2 linked regions of the Homo sapiens genome follow. The protein of the gene in region 1 binds, or shares a complex with, the protein of each later gene. Links are inferred from orthologs where the notes say so. Each region holds a gene or a part of one and is shown in the gene's direction. Other genes may lie near its edges.

Evidence for each region. Proteins that work in one complex are often made in the same cells at the same time.
Region 2: the proteins of IGSF5 (region 1) and LNX1 are in contact, whole or in part, in a crystal structure (PDB 3VQG), measured with the Mus musculus proteins. The link is inferred for Homo sapiens from one-to-one orthologs. Residues at the interface, in NP_001171358.1 of Mus musculus: Val367, Thr368, Leu369, Val370; in NP_001153049.1 of Mus musculus: Gln396, Leu397, Gly398, Ile399, Lys400, Leu401, Val402, Phe413, Leu416, Pro446, Ala449, Ala450, Ile453.

The regions. Positions count from the first base shown.
Region 1 is NC_000021.9:39,769,174-39,776,213, forward strand, and holds part of IGSF5 (immunoglobulin superfamily member 5), read left to right. Parts: intron 1-1,742; coding exon 1,743-2,042; intron 2,043-7,040. UniProt on the Homo sapiens protein: Provides, together with MAGI1, an adhesion machinery at tight junctions, which may regulate the permeability of kidney glomerulus and small intestinal epithelial cells. Mediates calcium-independent homophilic cell adhesion.
Region 2 is NC_000004.12:53,581,487-53,588,526, reverse strand, and holds part of LNX1 (E3 ubiquitin-protein ligase LNX), read left to right. Parts: intron 1-7,040.

The DNA.
Region 1 (7,040 bases):
ACAAACATTTAAGAAACCTCAGCCGGGAATGGTGGCTCATGCCTGTAATCCCAGCATTTTGGGAGGCCCAGGCGGGCAGCTCACTTGAGCCCAGGAGTTTGAGACCAGCCTGGGCAGCATGGTGAAATTCCATCTCTTAAAAAAAGTGCTGGGCGCGGTGGCTTATGCCTGTAATCCCAGCTACTCGGGAGGCTGAGGCAGGAGAATAGCTTGAACTTGGGAGGCGGAGGTTGCCGTGAGCCAACATGGCACCATTGCACTCCAGCCTGGGCAACAAGAGTGAAAGTCTGTCTCAAAAAAAAAAAAAAAAAAAAAAAAGAGAAAAGTAAGTTTTGGTACAGTATTCAAGAATATCCACAATTATCTGAAAAAGCTATTAAATACTCCTCACTGTTCCAACTACATATCTGTATGAAGTCAGGTTTTCTTTACATCCTTCAAACAAAGCAGTATATTGCAACAGACTGAATGAAGAGACAGCTATGAGAATCCAGCCAGACATTACAGAGATTTATATAAGTATAAAACAATGTCACTCATCTTATTAATTTTTTTAGTTTAAAAATGTGATTCGTTTCCATGAAAATATGTTAATCAAAATTAACATGTAATAAATTATTATTTTAAAATATATGTTTAAAATAATTGTTTAACTTTAATTTCAAATATGATAAATATTGGTAGATAAAACCCACACAAATGAAAGGTCTTTGGAGTCCTCAATGCTTTTGAAGAGTGTAAAAGGTACTGAGACCAAAGTGTTTGAGAAGTGCTGATCTGGTCAAACTATCTCATTCAGTAAGTACAACAAAGAGAGCCAAAAAAATTCAGTGACTTGCCCAAAGTGATGACAATTTTCTGGCAGAACCAAGATTGGGAACAAATTTTTTCATTTCTTAGTTCAGTATTCTTTCCATTATGTTGTGTAGTCCAGAGTTTCAGCATGTTTTTCTTGGACATATATGTATACACATTTCACTAAGGCTGTGTCTTTACTGGGGCCAATCCTCAGGTTGTTTTAGTCACACTTGTGAAAACAAGTACTATTTTCATATGGGTTGTTTGCAGTATGAATGCTGACCTATGCGAGAGTGTTCTTAATAAAAAAATAACTTATCTAAGTTATTCTGGCACATGATTTGGGTTAGTTATTTCTGTAAATATTAGATTGGAATTCGATTTAATTTGTAATGAGAAACCTATGTTAAGGCAATACCCTAGGAAGTTATGTTTAAGACCATATGACCCTAGAAATAAATAAAAATGTATCTGATTGACCAAAACTCCAGGGGAGACTTGCGTCTGACCCTGGGCTGTGTCCTCGTCACAGTGAGAAGAAGGTGAAGCTCGTTTCTCTTTTTCCCTTTGCTCCCTCGACAGCCCAAGATAATTCTGTAGCTCACTTCAGGGATTGTATAACCCCCCTATGGCATGCACTTTTCTTTCCCACATAATTATTTCCCCCTGGTTTCTGACTTTTATGAAGCATTTTCTATGTAACTTTGCTTTCTTGTGAGCAACCTCACCTTCTTCAGAGACTCTGGCAGGTGTACAAAAAAGACCCAGATAAAATCTGAGTTAAGATTTCCTAGTAGAGACACAGCCTCTTTGGGCTTGGGAAAATAGGTCTCACAAAATGTAATTTGAAGCAAAACTTAAAAAAAAAAAGAAAAAAAAAAAGAAAACTTAGAAGCGAGAGGCATGGTCATGTCTTCAATGTGTTTCTCTCTTTTCTTCTTTAGTTATGGGAGAGCTGTTCATTCCCAGTGTTAATCTTGTAGTCGCTGAGAATGAACCTTGTGAAGTTACTTGTCTACCCTCACACTGGACCCGGCTCCCGGATATTTCCTGGGAGCTCGGTCTCCTGGTCAGCCATTCAAGCTATTATTTTGTTCCGGAGCCCAGCGACCTTCAAAGTGCAGTGAGCATCCTGGCTCTGACCCCACAGAGCAATGGGACTTTGACTTGCGTGGCTACCTGGAAGAGCCTGAAGGCCCGCAAGTCTGCAACTGTAAATCTCACTGTGATTCGGTGTCCCCAAGGTAAGTGAAGACATTCTGCTTTATATGAAATGAATGATTATTTCATGCTTCAATATTACGTAGAATGCTCCTTCATCCACGATGCCTGGAAAAATCATATGGCGACCTTGATTTTGGGTGGGGATGATAAGGCCAATCACATCTGCTGTCAGCTTAATAATCTTATACCCTCGTCTGCTTTTTAAATTCCATCTTAAAGTTTTTTTTCTCCTATTACATTTGAAAACCATTTAGAATCTTGCCAATTATTTATCATCAAAGAGCATCAAGTTTGGAGACAAATGCTTGAATTAAACATTTGTGTTTCTAGCTTTTACCTACCACTGTTTCAGTTTGATCCCACCCCCTGAGCCAGTATGAAGCAGGTCTTCATACTGGAGGAGGGTGTTCAGGTCTCCCTGGATTTCTTCCAATCTTAGTGGAATTATAATGCTTCATTTTCTTCCCCACCAAATCTACAATGTGTTTGAAAGTGTCAAGTCTATATGTATATAGTTTAACTTGACTAAATGACAGAACTTTAAAGTTTAGATCCCCCTAAAGAATCTCCTGTGGGGTTTTTGGTGTACCAGACACTCTAACCACATTCCTTGAAGGGGCCCATAGCGCCTGTGAGCTTTGAGTCAGCCTGGACAGGGTGGGCCCGGGATGCTGGAGATTGACTTTAACTTAACATTTTACAAAAAAGGAAGTGAGGCCCGGAGAAAGTCTGTGCTTTCATCCGGGTCACACAGCCAAAGTGGCAGAGCTGGGCCTAGAAGCTGAGAAGAGCTTTTCTTTTCGTGTCTAAAGCTTTTCCCACCATGAAAACACCTTTACCTGAGATCTTCCAAAGTTCAGAACAAAGCCATAGCCAAAGCCAAATAATGATGGTAACGATAATAAACAGCACCCTATAGCTCTTACCAAGTTATCAGGCACTATTCTGAGCACTTCTCAGGTATTCACAGAATTAACCGGCCCTACAGCCGTATGAGTGTTGCTGTTATTCCTATTGTAAAGGCAAGGTGACCGGGACAGTGCTGTTGGGATTGTGCACACGTCTGTAGAGTGAGTAAATGACAGGGCAACCTGTACTCACCTGTAGAGTGAGTAAATGACAGGCAGTCTGTCTCCAGAAACTGCTCACCTGGCAACTCTGCCCACCGTGTGAGCAGCCACTTGGAGGGTATAAGAGGTCCCATGGCTGCCGTAACGGAGGACCACAGGCTTGGTGGCTTAAACAACAGAAATGGATTTTCTCACAGTCCTGGAGGTTGGAAGTGTCATCAGGGCTGGTTCCTCCTGAGGGCTGGGAGGGAGCCTCTGTTCCTTACCTCTCCCCTTGTTCCTTGTGGTTGCTGGCCATCTTCCTTAGCTTGTAGAAACATCACCCTCCTCTCTGCCTTCATCTTTACTTGGTGTTGTCCCATTTTTTATGGTCTTTTCTGAGATAAACACTTTTGAACGGTACAGGTTATTTTTGCAAGATGCCTCTCAATTTGGGTCAGTTTGGATCAATTTGGATCAATTTGGATTTGTCTAAAATTTTTCATCATACTTTGACTTAGGTTACATATTTTTGGCAAGATATAGGTAATGTAATGTGGTCACAGGATGACAATTTTCATTGGCGTAAGTTTGACCGTTTGGTGAAGGTGGCATACCCTGAATTTATCCAACATAAAAGTACCTTTTTTGACTTTATAATTAATATGTAGCCAATAGATATTGTGGGAATATCCTGTTTACCCACAACCTTTCACCTAATACAATTTTTTAAAAAAACTTTTATTTTAGGTTCAGGGTTACACATACTGGTTTGTTGTATAGGCAAACTCATGTCACAGGGGATTGTTGTACAAATTATTTTATGACCTATGTACTAAGCCTAGTACCCATTAGTTATTTTTCCTGCTTCTCTCCCTCCTCCCACCCTCCACCCTCAGATAGACCCCAGTGTGTGTTGTTCCCCTCTATGTATCCTTGTGTTCTCATCATTCAGCTCCCACTTATAAGTGAGAACATGCGGTATTTGGTTTTCTGTTCCTACATTAGTTTGCTAAGGATAATGACCTCCAGCTCCATCCACGTCCTTGCAAAGGAGATGATTTTGTTCTTTTTTTACCTACTAACTTTTACATTCATTGATAAATCATTGCCTGAATCAATTACTTCTATGGTGATTGTAAAGAGTGATTTCCTGCTTCCATTATTCTTTCCATATCTCTTAATTGGCTTTCTTTTGTTAAACAAAAGACTTCCCTCCCCTTTCTTCCTTTTCTTTTTTTTTCCTCACAGTTTTAGTAGGGACTCAATTTTGTCCAATACATTCTAATCTATTCCTGTCATTTTTCGTTTTGACACCCAGATTGCTCCAGACTTGGTCAGTTGGTGTCCCTCCAAGCTGGTGCTGGTGTCCTTCCGACATCCCCCTATTAGTTTTTGAGCACCTGGACCAGTAAGGTGTTCCAGTCTCACTTTGCACTTCCCTGTCTCCACCTGGAATCAGTCATTTCTCCAGAGAACCAACCTTAAATATCATAAGTTAGTCTACTTAAATATGATAAAGTATGGTCCAAACTTTGAAAGAGAAGATTTTAAAAAAATCCATTAGCACCAAATGGAATAAAATGGACTGGTTAAAGCATATATCTTAACGAGGTAACGATGCAGCAGGAGCTCTGGCCTGATTGATGGTACCTTAGAGAGATAGATTTTAGAGACTGGCTTGCTTGCAAATGTTTTCTTTTGTAGTGGAAGGGAAAGAGAGCACTTAATTTCCCTTGGTCAGGTTAAATTCACTGAATTCTTCTTAGTCCAGAACTAGTGCCTTAACGATGGTAGCTGGAGGCATGGCTGCTGGAGAGGGAGGCTCAGTGGGTGCTTGCAATGAGTCTAGCTTTATTGGATTCATTTGGAACAGGGTAATTTGTTTCTAAATTATTCATCAAGATCCAGTGCAGCTGGTGGCTGGCTGCATGTTGTGTGTTTTAGGTAAGTTTTATTAGCTGAAGACCTCATTGCAGCCTTGGTTGGCGGAGCTGGTGACCAGACGAGGCTGTAAGGAGAACAGCCAGGTTTCCAGAGAGCCAAGTGTTAATGGGGCTGTGCCCATTCAGGCTTCTTCAGGAATCATATAAACATCCATTTTTCCACCCATTTCCTAAAAGTGCAAAGCATTTGTTTTCATTTCTGAAATGATCCCTGCAAGTCGTTGAAACAGGAATGACGTCAGCTTTGGAAGCTTATCCAGTCAGGGCAAGTCACAGGGTTGTATGAAGTACTTCCTGGTTTATAGTTCAAAAGGTTTCTTTAGAGAAAAACATACTGGGAGGGCTGACATTCATTTCAGATCTGTTTTTTAGAAATTGATTTTCTTAACTACAGAAATGATACAAACCTCGAGCATTGCAGACGTATCCAAAACTGGAGAGTGAGGCCGTCTCACCCTGTCTTGGGAGAAGCACTGTCAGAGCCATCTGCCCCTCGGGGTGGTTTTCTTTGTGCACTTATTTGTGTGTAGGTTGTGAAATGGTTAAAATGAAGTAATGTTTTTAGGACACATGAGCACCTTGTGGAATGTAGTGATTCCTGGTTATAACCTTACTGTTTTGAGAAATGGCAATTTTGGGTGCAGAGAAGAGTAGTAGAAGTGACAGTCCTAGGCCTTTGCCCTGGCACTGATGGTGCAACTTTGGGCAAGTCAGCAAACTTCAGGGCTCAGTTTTCTCACCTGTAAAGTGGGTAGGAGAAGAATAGAGAAGTCCTCTCTCCCGGCTGTGGATCAGAGACAGCAGAGGAGCCTTCTTTATAAATATGCTGAGGCTCAGCCTCCTCCTGGGGGTTTTGTTTCATTGGTTTTTGTGGAGCCTGGGAATTGCAATTGTAAAAAAAGTTCCCAAGTTACTCTAATGGGCAGCCAGGATTGGGGGCTACTGAACTGAAAAAAAAAATCTCTAAGGCCTAGCCTTCCCCTCCAGCCCGATCAAGTGCTATGTCTACACAGACTTGGACATTAGACAGCCTGGGTTCCAATCCCAGCTCACACAATCACTAGCCGTGTGTCTTCTGGGCAAATTACTTACCCTCTCTGAGCCTCAGTTTTAGAACGGTCCTTGCTCCAGAGCACATAGGACTGGAAAGGGAGTGATTGTCATTCACACTATTGATTCGGAGATCTCTTGTGTCGCCTCTAGTGGGCACAGGGATATGCTTTGCACATGATAGTGGTGACATTTGGTATTAATATGTACTTGGCACGTGTTGGTGGTGACATTTTATATTAATCCATTTGGTTTTAAGAAATTCTATACCTTTTTAAAACTCTATGCATTCCTTTGAGAGCATCTGGGAAATGCTATTTTCCTTTTCTTCACAGATGGGAAAAGGACAATCTCCAAGTGGAGGTTAAAGCACATGGTAAAGTCAGTAATGAGGCCCTAACAAGCACACAGTGGTGTGAAGGAGTGCAGGGAGAAAGGCAAGCAGTGTTGACCTTGGAGCTAATCTTCCTTAGTCACTATGTGTGGGTTACTCAGGTATAGTATACTCATCCTCTCCAGCAAACCTGCCATTCACCTGAGCCAGACACACCCACACCCTCCATAGGGTACAAGGCACAGACCAGCACCCCACTGTAGACTTTATGCAAATACATTTATGTCATACCTGGGCCATATTTTCCTCAGAAGGATTATTCTACATTGGAGACAACACATGGCAGGATGGAAAGATATGAGCCAGTGGCCCTGTGGCTTCCTGTTCTGGGCTCCCTGTGCCATTTACTTAGTCACTCTGTCCTGAGCGTCTTGTCTGCATGATGAAAAGATTGGATTATGGATGACATCATTCCAAGAGTCTGTGTTTTCTGTCCACTGTCAGATTTTTGGTTTGTCAATAATATATGGCTATGATCTATTTTTCAGTATACAGTAAATGCACTCTTTTTAAAAAAATTAGCTCCATACTAAACAAAAATATACATGCATGTGTGTATACCTATGTGTATAGATATAA
Region 2 (7,040 bases), on another chromosome or scaffold:
AATGCTACTGCTTTAGAATAGTGGTCTGGTCTCTGGCATCAGGCTGCCTACCTGGGTTTTTGAAACCCAGATCTACCATGTGCTACCTGTGTGACCTGGGACAGATTCTTTAAGCTGCTCTCATCAGCTGTGTAATAGGGTTATCATGAAGATGAAATGGGTTGAAATGTGTAAAGTGCTTGGAATGGTACCTGCCACAGTGTTACTTGTAAATATTGAAAGGAAGGCATAGTTGATAGTATCAGACAGGTCTGTGTATCAGACCCAGTTCTACCATGTAGTTGCTAGCCTAAATAAGTTCCTTAATATTTCTTTGCTTTGGTTTCATCAGCTGGGAAATGAAATACTTCCCAGACTCAGAGCTGTTGGGAGGAATAATTGAAATAATTACATGGAAAGTGCCTGGCATATTTTAAATGTTCAGTGAGTGTTAACTATTGTTATATTATTTTAAACATTTTTATATTGCTTACAGTTAGACATCTTAGGTCATGCTACTATCTGGATGTAATAATGATGGAAACGGTAGTACGTTGAGGGCCAAAGACTGAGCAAAAAAAGATTTCCCAAAAGGCTCCCAAAGGCAGAGGAGGAAAACCTGTTAACAAAGATTGTGTTGTTTCTCTTGGAGTTCCAGGGTAGAGTGGCTGCCAGTGGAAATGCCTGGTCTTTCATAAACCTGTGGGGAGTGGGCTTCTGTGATGTGAGTAAACAGCGGGTCTTCCTGGAGCGGTGATTTCCTGGCTTCACCTGTCACTGTCTCCTTGTCTCCAAGACCTTGGCTAAGACTTCCTTTCTATATTTGAATTCCTCACTTAAAGTGGAGAAAATAGGGTCTGGTGGGATCTTGACTACTTTTTTTTTCCTTTCACTCTCTTGACCAGGATACGATCTTGACTACTCGAAATGCCGTCTGTAAGATGCTGGCAAGGCGAGGACACATAAGAGATGCTCTAAAGTGTGTCCTCCTCATTGCCTCAGTATTCATGGACTTCCCAGTAGCATACAACTATTCCTAATATTTATGTACTGACATTACATAGACTCTCTTTTATGTGGTTGGCAAATTTATTGTCCTCTGACAATGCCTCCAAAGTATCAAAGGCTTTTCAAAACTGTTTGGAAGGAAGACTGTGTCACTGTTCCTGGGTTAATATGATTTAATCATTAACTATCCCCAAAGAATAGGGTTGACATGAAAACCATAAAAAAACCATAAAATGTGGAAAACTACACTGAGCTGAAATCAGGAACAGAAAACGTTTGTTGTCTCCCGTAAACTTTCTGTGTTTACCCTTTCCTCCATTTTGTTCTGTGTGACATGAGGACACCACAGTGACCTATTTGGTTAGTTACACAGATACACACTTCAGATCAGTAAGAGGAAGAACTTTCTATGAATTAGAGTTGTCCGAAAATGTAGTAGGTTGCCTTTTGGGATACTGAGTTTCTTGTCACTGAAGGTGATCATTTTTTTTGGCATATTTAGTGCATGGTGTATGTTTGCTGGATGAGTGAATGAATTAATAAATGAATGACAAAGAGGATTTGTGTTTTTCAGCTGCACATACACTCATCTGTAAAGTGAAGATTACCTTAATGATCTCATAGGATTATTTTAGATTAAATGAAAAAACATGTTGAATACCCAGCACAGTATCTTGCATATTGCAAACTGCTCATTAAATAGTAATAATCATTATTTTTTATTTTATATTCTAAAAAGAATTTCTGCCTCAGGTAGAAGGTAGACAAGATGATCCACCAATTTGAGATTTGCAGTTTTTACAATCATCTGTTTACTCTTGTTCTCTTTGCCTTTGCCCTTCTTCACCTATCCATCTGAAAGAACTTCTCTCTGCTCTAGAAAGCCAAGTTCCTTGGCATGGTAGGCTGACTAGTACACTTCTAACAGTGGGAGCAAGTTCTATCCCAATTAACCGGGGACATTTTTGGTAACATCACTAATTTGTGACTTAGAATATGTGGACTTAGACTCCATGATTTTTTTCAAGTGACTCTTATTTGCTTCTTGTGTTTGACGCATTTGTCACAGGCACACAAAAGACTTCACCAGCAGCAGAGTCGAAACTCTCCAAGAATTTTCTTTAATAGCTTCTTGGCACAATAGCACATGCATGATGGGGAGGTCTAAATATGTCATTGCTATCTGCTGAGATGATTTGCATAACTTGCTTATGACTGCTTTTGACAGTCACGTGGCCTTTTCTGAATAGAGCGCAGCATGTTTAGGCTCCTGCATACTCGCATGAATACATGAGTCACCATGTGTTTTCAGACTCCTCATTAAATATGATTGTCTGACTTATATTACATCTTCCACAACATACACACACTCAGCCATTCTATCTGTGGCCTTTTTTTTTTCCCTTGAGGCCCTTTGCAAATTTAGTCTAACAGTCATCTCTGAAAGCATCTGTATTCTAACTTATTAATGAATTAAAGGGAAATTAATACATTTTCTAATAGGGTAGAGTTGCTAAATATGTAGCAATCTATGTGGCTGCTGTCTCCAAATATTTTTCCCTATTTCTAAGCCCTATAGAGAAGTGTTGGAAAGGATCGTTGGGAGCATTCACCCCATTCCTGCAGGAATACCCCTGGAAATATGTAACCCCTGTATTTCTAGGGCTGCCATAACAAATACCCATAAACTTGGTGGCTTAAAACAACTCCCATTTATTGTCTCACAGTTCTGGAGGCTGGAAGTTTGAAATAAAGGTAACAGCAGGGCCACACTCCTCTGAAGGCTCCAGGAGAGGGTCTTCTCTGGTCTCTTTCAGTTTCTAGTAGCTCTAGACATTCCTTAGCTTGTGGGTGCATAATTCCAATCTCTGCCTCTCTCCTCACATCACCTTCTCCTCTGCGTTTGTGTCTTCTCCTCCTGTCTTATAAGTGTCTAAGGACATCTGTCATTGAATTTAGGACCCACTCAGATAATCCAGAATGATCTCATCTCAAGATCCTAAACCTCATGACACCTTCTTAGATCGTTTTCCTGTAAGGTCATAGTCACAGGTTCTGGGGTTAAGACATGGATATATCTTTTGCAGGGACCCTCATTCTACCCACTGTATCCCCAGCTGACAACCATATACACAAGCTCTTCCAACTACTTATGGAGAGATTTCTTGTCCACTTGGAGGCTGAAATACTGAGCAAAGTACAGGCAAGGAGAGTCAGAATTGGCAGCCATCATCACTACCTTCATTTATTTCTATGTTCATGCCACAGTAGTAAGTGTTTTGTACTCTAAAGGCCTACTGAGTTCTTCCAGTCAACAGTGTGAGATATCTAATAAGACAAAACAGTAAAAACCATCATAGATTGCATTAGTAAACACATAGTATCCTGGTTAAGGAAGTGATCACTCCACTGAATCCTGAGTCCTCCAAACCAAAACAGGATAACTTCACTTCCAGGTACGGGTTTTCAAAGGGACCTTAACAAACTAGAAGGCATCCTGGGTAGATCTTTTACCACCATCTGGACTACCCAGGAAGACAATTGGAAGAACCAAAGACAAAGATAAAAACAAGGGAGGAACCACCCAATGCTGTCTTTAATTTGGGGATGTGTGTGTCATGTTTTGAGTAAGCAAATGTGATATACGTTACACTGAAAGGCAGAACAAGGCCAAAGGTCAAAGTAACGTGGGAAGCACTAGCTATTTGAAAAACTGACCAGTTCTCCATCAGTGGAAGTGTTTCAGATAGAAGCTGGTAGGTGCTGTAGGGATCTTGAAAAGAGGATTTTTCTACTTGGTGAAAATCTAAGTTCCTTAACCGATCAAAATCCTATGACTTCTAAATAAATCATTTTAAAACCTCACATAGAGGTCGTCATATGGGTCACATCAAGAGATCACTACTCTTCCTTGATTGACACATTTGCTCAGGTTCTTCTCACCTGGATTACTTCCCACTTGTCCAGATCGCATTTATCATTCGTGATCCTTCCCAAGGACCGTCTATCCCATTAACTTTCCTTGATTGTTCTGGGCCACATGCACTCTCTATTGTCTCTCCTCCAAAGCTTGTCCATGGCTCCTGTCTTGGGGCATTATACACATTGCCATGTATTATGTATTCTCTTGCAGTGTTTTTACATTTTTTTTCCTGTGGATAAACTCTGTTTTCATAATTAGACTTAAATGTATTGGAGATGAAATGGAATTCCCTACAGGAACTCCCACAGAGTTTAAGGCCAATCCCAGGCATGGATTAGGCAAAGCCATGACCCCTGTAGAATTGAAACACAGCCGGAAAATGTTGAGAATTCAAATATCTTTCCTCATCTTGTCCTTCCCTCTGTAAAACTTGGTTATCTGTTTTAAAAAAAACAACAACAACAGAAAAAAAACCATACACACATAAACACTTTTTGAAATTGTTTTTCAGCTTTGGATGAAAGAATGTCAGTTTGCTTCTTTTCCATACCCCTCTGATATCAGCTCTTCCCGGGATCCTTGGTGACTCCTAGCATGAACAGAGCTCCGAATCAATGCAAAAATACTCTGCCTTCATTTGTCGTTGTTGTTGTTGTTGTTGTTGTTGTTGTTGTTGTTGTTGTTTGCAGGGGGTCAGTTCTATTTCATCATGTTTATGGACTAGGAAATGGAAGGACATCTTTTCTGTTACAGAGTTTTTACAAACAAACCCAAGTATGGCACCCCAGGGGAAAGGTGGTAAAATCTCGTCAAGAGAAGGAACACTCTTCTCTAACCTGCTTATGAAAGGCATTCCCTGACTTCTAAAACTTGCGTCTAATTGTCTAGCCACTTGGGACTCTTTTCGCTTAACCACTTCCCTTGTTTTTCCCACATTCTGAACATCTATGTCCTCCTTTATTGACTCCAGATGTATTACATGGTCTCCCTTTAGTTCAATTCTCCTGTAATTTCTTGACATGTTTCTGACCTCTTTAAAGACCATTTAAAAGGGTTTTTTTTTTCTGTATTTTTGGGTGTTTGCAATACTATACAGGCTAATGTCATTCACAGATTCATTAATGAGTGGCTTAGTCCCTCTTCGAGATCATTGATTTAGAAATTAAGCAGAAGCAGAGCTAACCACGACCTTGGCGGCAGCCTGTAAGCACCTGCCTCCCCACTCTTTCCTCTGCAGTGTATTTGCCCCCCATCATGCACACACAGACACATCACCCCAAACTTCCAACCCAGGTTCTTAGTTTGAAGATAATTTTATTCCATGTGTGACTATTTTTATCCAGGTCATTAATGCTCCTAATTCTTCCCTATTACATGAGAGTCTGTAAGCTAAGGAATAGCCCACAGAACACTGCCCATCCTCTGTGTATGTTCATTTACAATTGGCCTTTATAAAATTGCCATAAGAGTTTGATGGCACATTATCGATCCTGTCAAGTCTTACTAAATTTATCTAAAATTTAAAATGTAATTGTACATTTACTTTGTTTAATACAGAAAGATAGACTTTGCCCTAACTTTGGCAATTATTTTCCCCCCAGTAACCTGATTTAGGAGTTACAGCTAGGGCCAGGGCAGTAGTTAGGCAGACATGCCTGCTGGGTGAATTATTTTAGAAAGAGAGATGAGGCCACCATTTGAAGAAGTGGCAGGCGCTGGTCTGTTTGGTTCCTCTGTGGGTATATTTCTGCTGTTCGTGGTCCAGGATGGTGTTTCTGACTGTGATGGTGATTTTTGCACTGAGCTGTCACCCCAGTGACCAGTTTGAAACTAAGCAACCATTCTGCCACATGGAGCTTAATCCAAATTTTAAAGCATCATCAACAATTAAAAAAAAAACAAAAAAACAAAAAATCTTAAGCTCATTTTCTTGAAGCTAAAAGTAACCTCAGAAATAATCTGATATAGAGTTAGCCCTTGTGTGTTTGAAACATGCTGTAAAACAAGAGGTTGGCTGAAGGGAGTAAAATATTTTGAATAACTTTTAAATGTGCAAAAATTCAAAGCAAACATGAATACAGTAGGGCAGAGCCTCACACTGTTTGTAAAATGTCACATTCCATGTGGTGTCCTTGCTGGAGAGAACTCTTTATTACTTGACTGGGCTCGCTTATGTACTCATGAAACAAAGCTCTTACAGGATCCGGTCGTTTTGTGATCTTTTGTGAGACCTGGCCCTAGGTTACATTCTTTGCTTCTTTGAAGCGAGTCATTCCTCTTGCCTTGTGAACCCTTCAGCAAACTGTTCACCTGTGTGTCTCTGTCAAGTGTAACAATCAGCTGAAGCAACAATCAATTCTGACCTTGGGTGAAGTTTAGTGGCACACCTGGGAAGAGTTTGTAATTCTACTGTTTTGTCATTGTAGCTGGCTGGCCACCAGGTCAGGTAAAAGGAAAATATCAAGATCCAAAAAAGTAGTTGGTAGCAGAGCTGCATCCAAACCACAGTTTTGATATTCTTAGGTTTCTAAAATTAACAGTGACAAGGTCATAATTAAGGTGAGGCAAGTGAGACACTCACCTTCAGGTGCAAAATTTAAGGTGCAGAAAAATTCAGTAATCCTAATGTGAATGCAATATTTAAAAAAATGCAAAATGAATGCAAACAATCCATGATGAACAAAAGATCAAAATGTATTCAAATAAAGACAAGATCAGTAAGCTAAAGTTATTTAGAAATTGTTTAAGATCATCACTTAGTTAAGAGAAATGATCAAACATGGCAATTTCCTCAATCAAAAACAAGATGCGTGATATGGTTTGGCTGCGTCCCCACCCAAATCTCATCTTGTATTGTAGCTTCCATAATCCCCACATGTTGTGGGAGGGACGCAAGGGGAGGTAATTGAATCATGGGGGCGGGTTTTTCCCATGCTATTCTTGCGATAGTGAGTAAGTCTCATGAGATATGTTGGTTTTATAAAGGGCGGTTCCCCTGCACATGTTCTCTCGCCTGCCACCATGTTAGACATGTTTTTGCTCCTCCTTCACCTTCCGCCATGATTGTGAGGCTTCCTCAGTCATATGGAACTGTGAGTCCATTAAACCTCTTTTTCTTTATAAATCACCC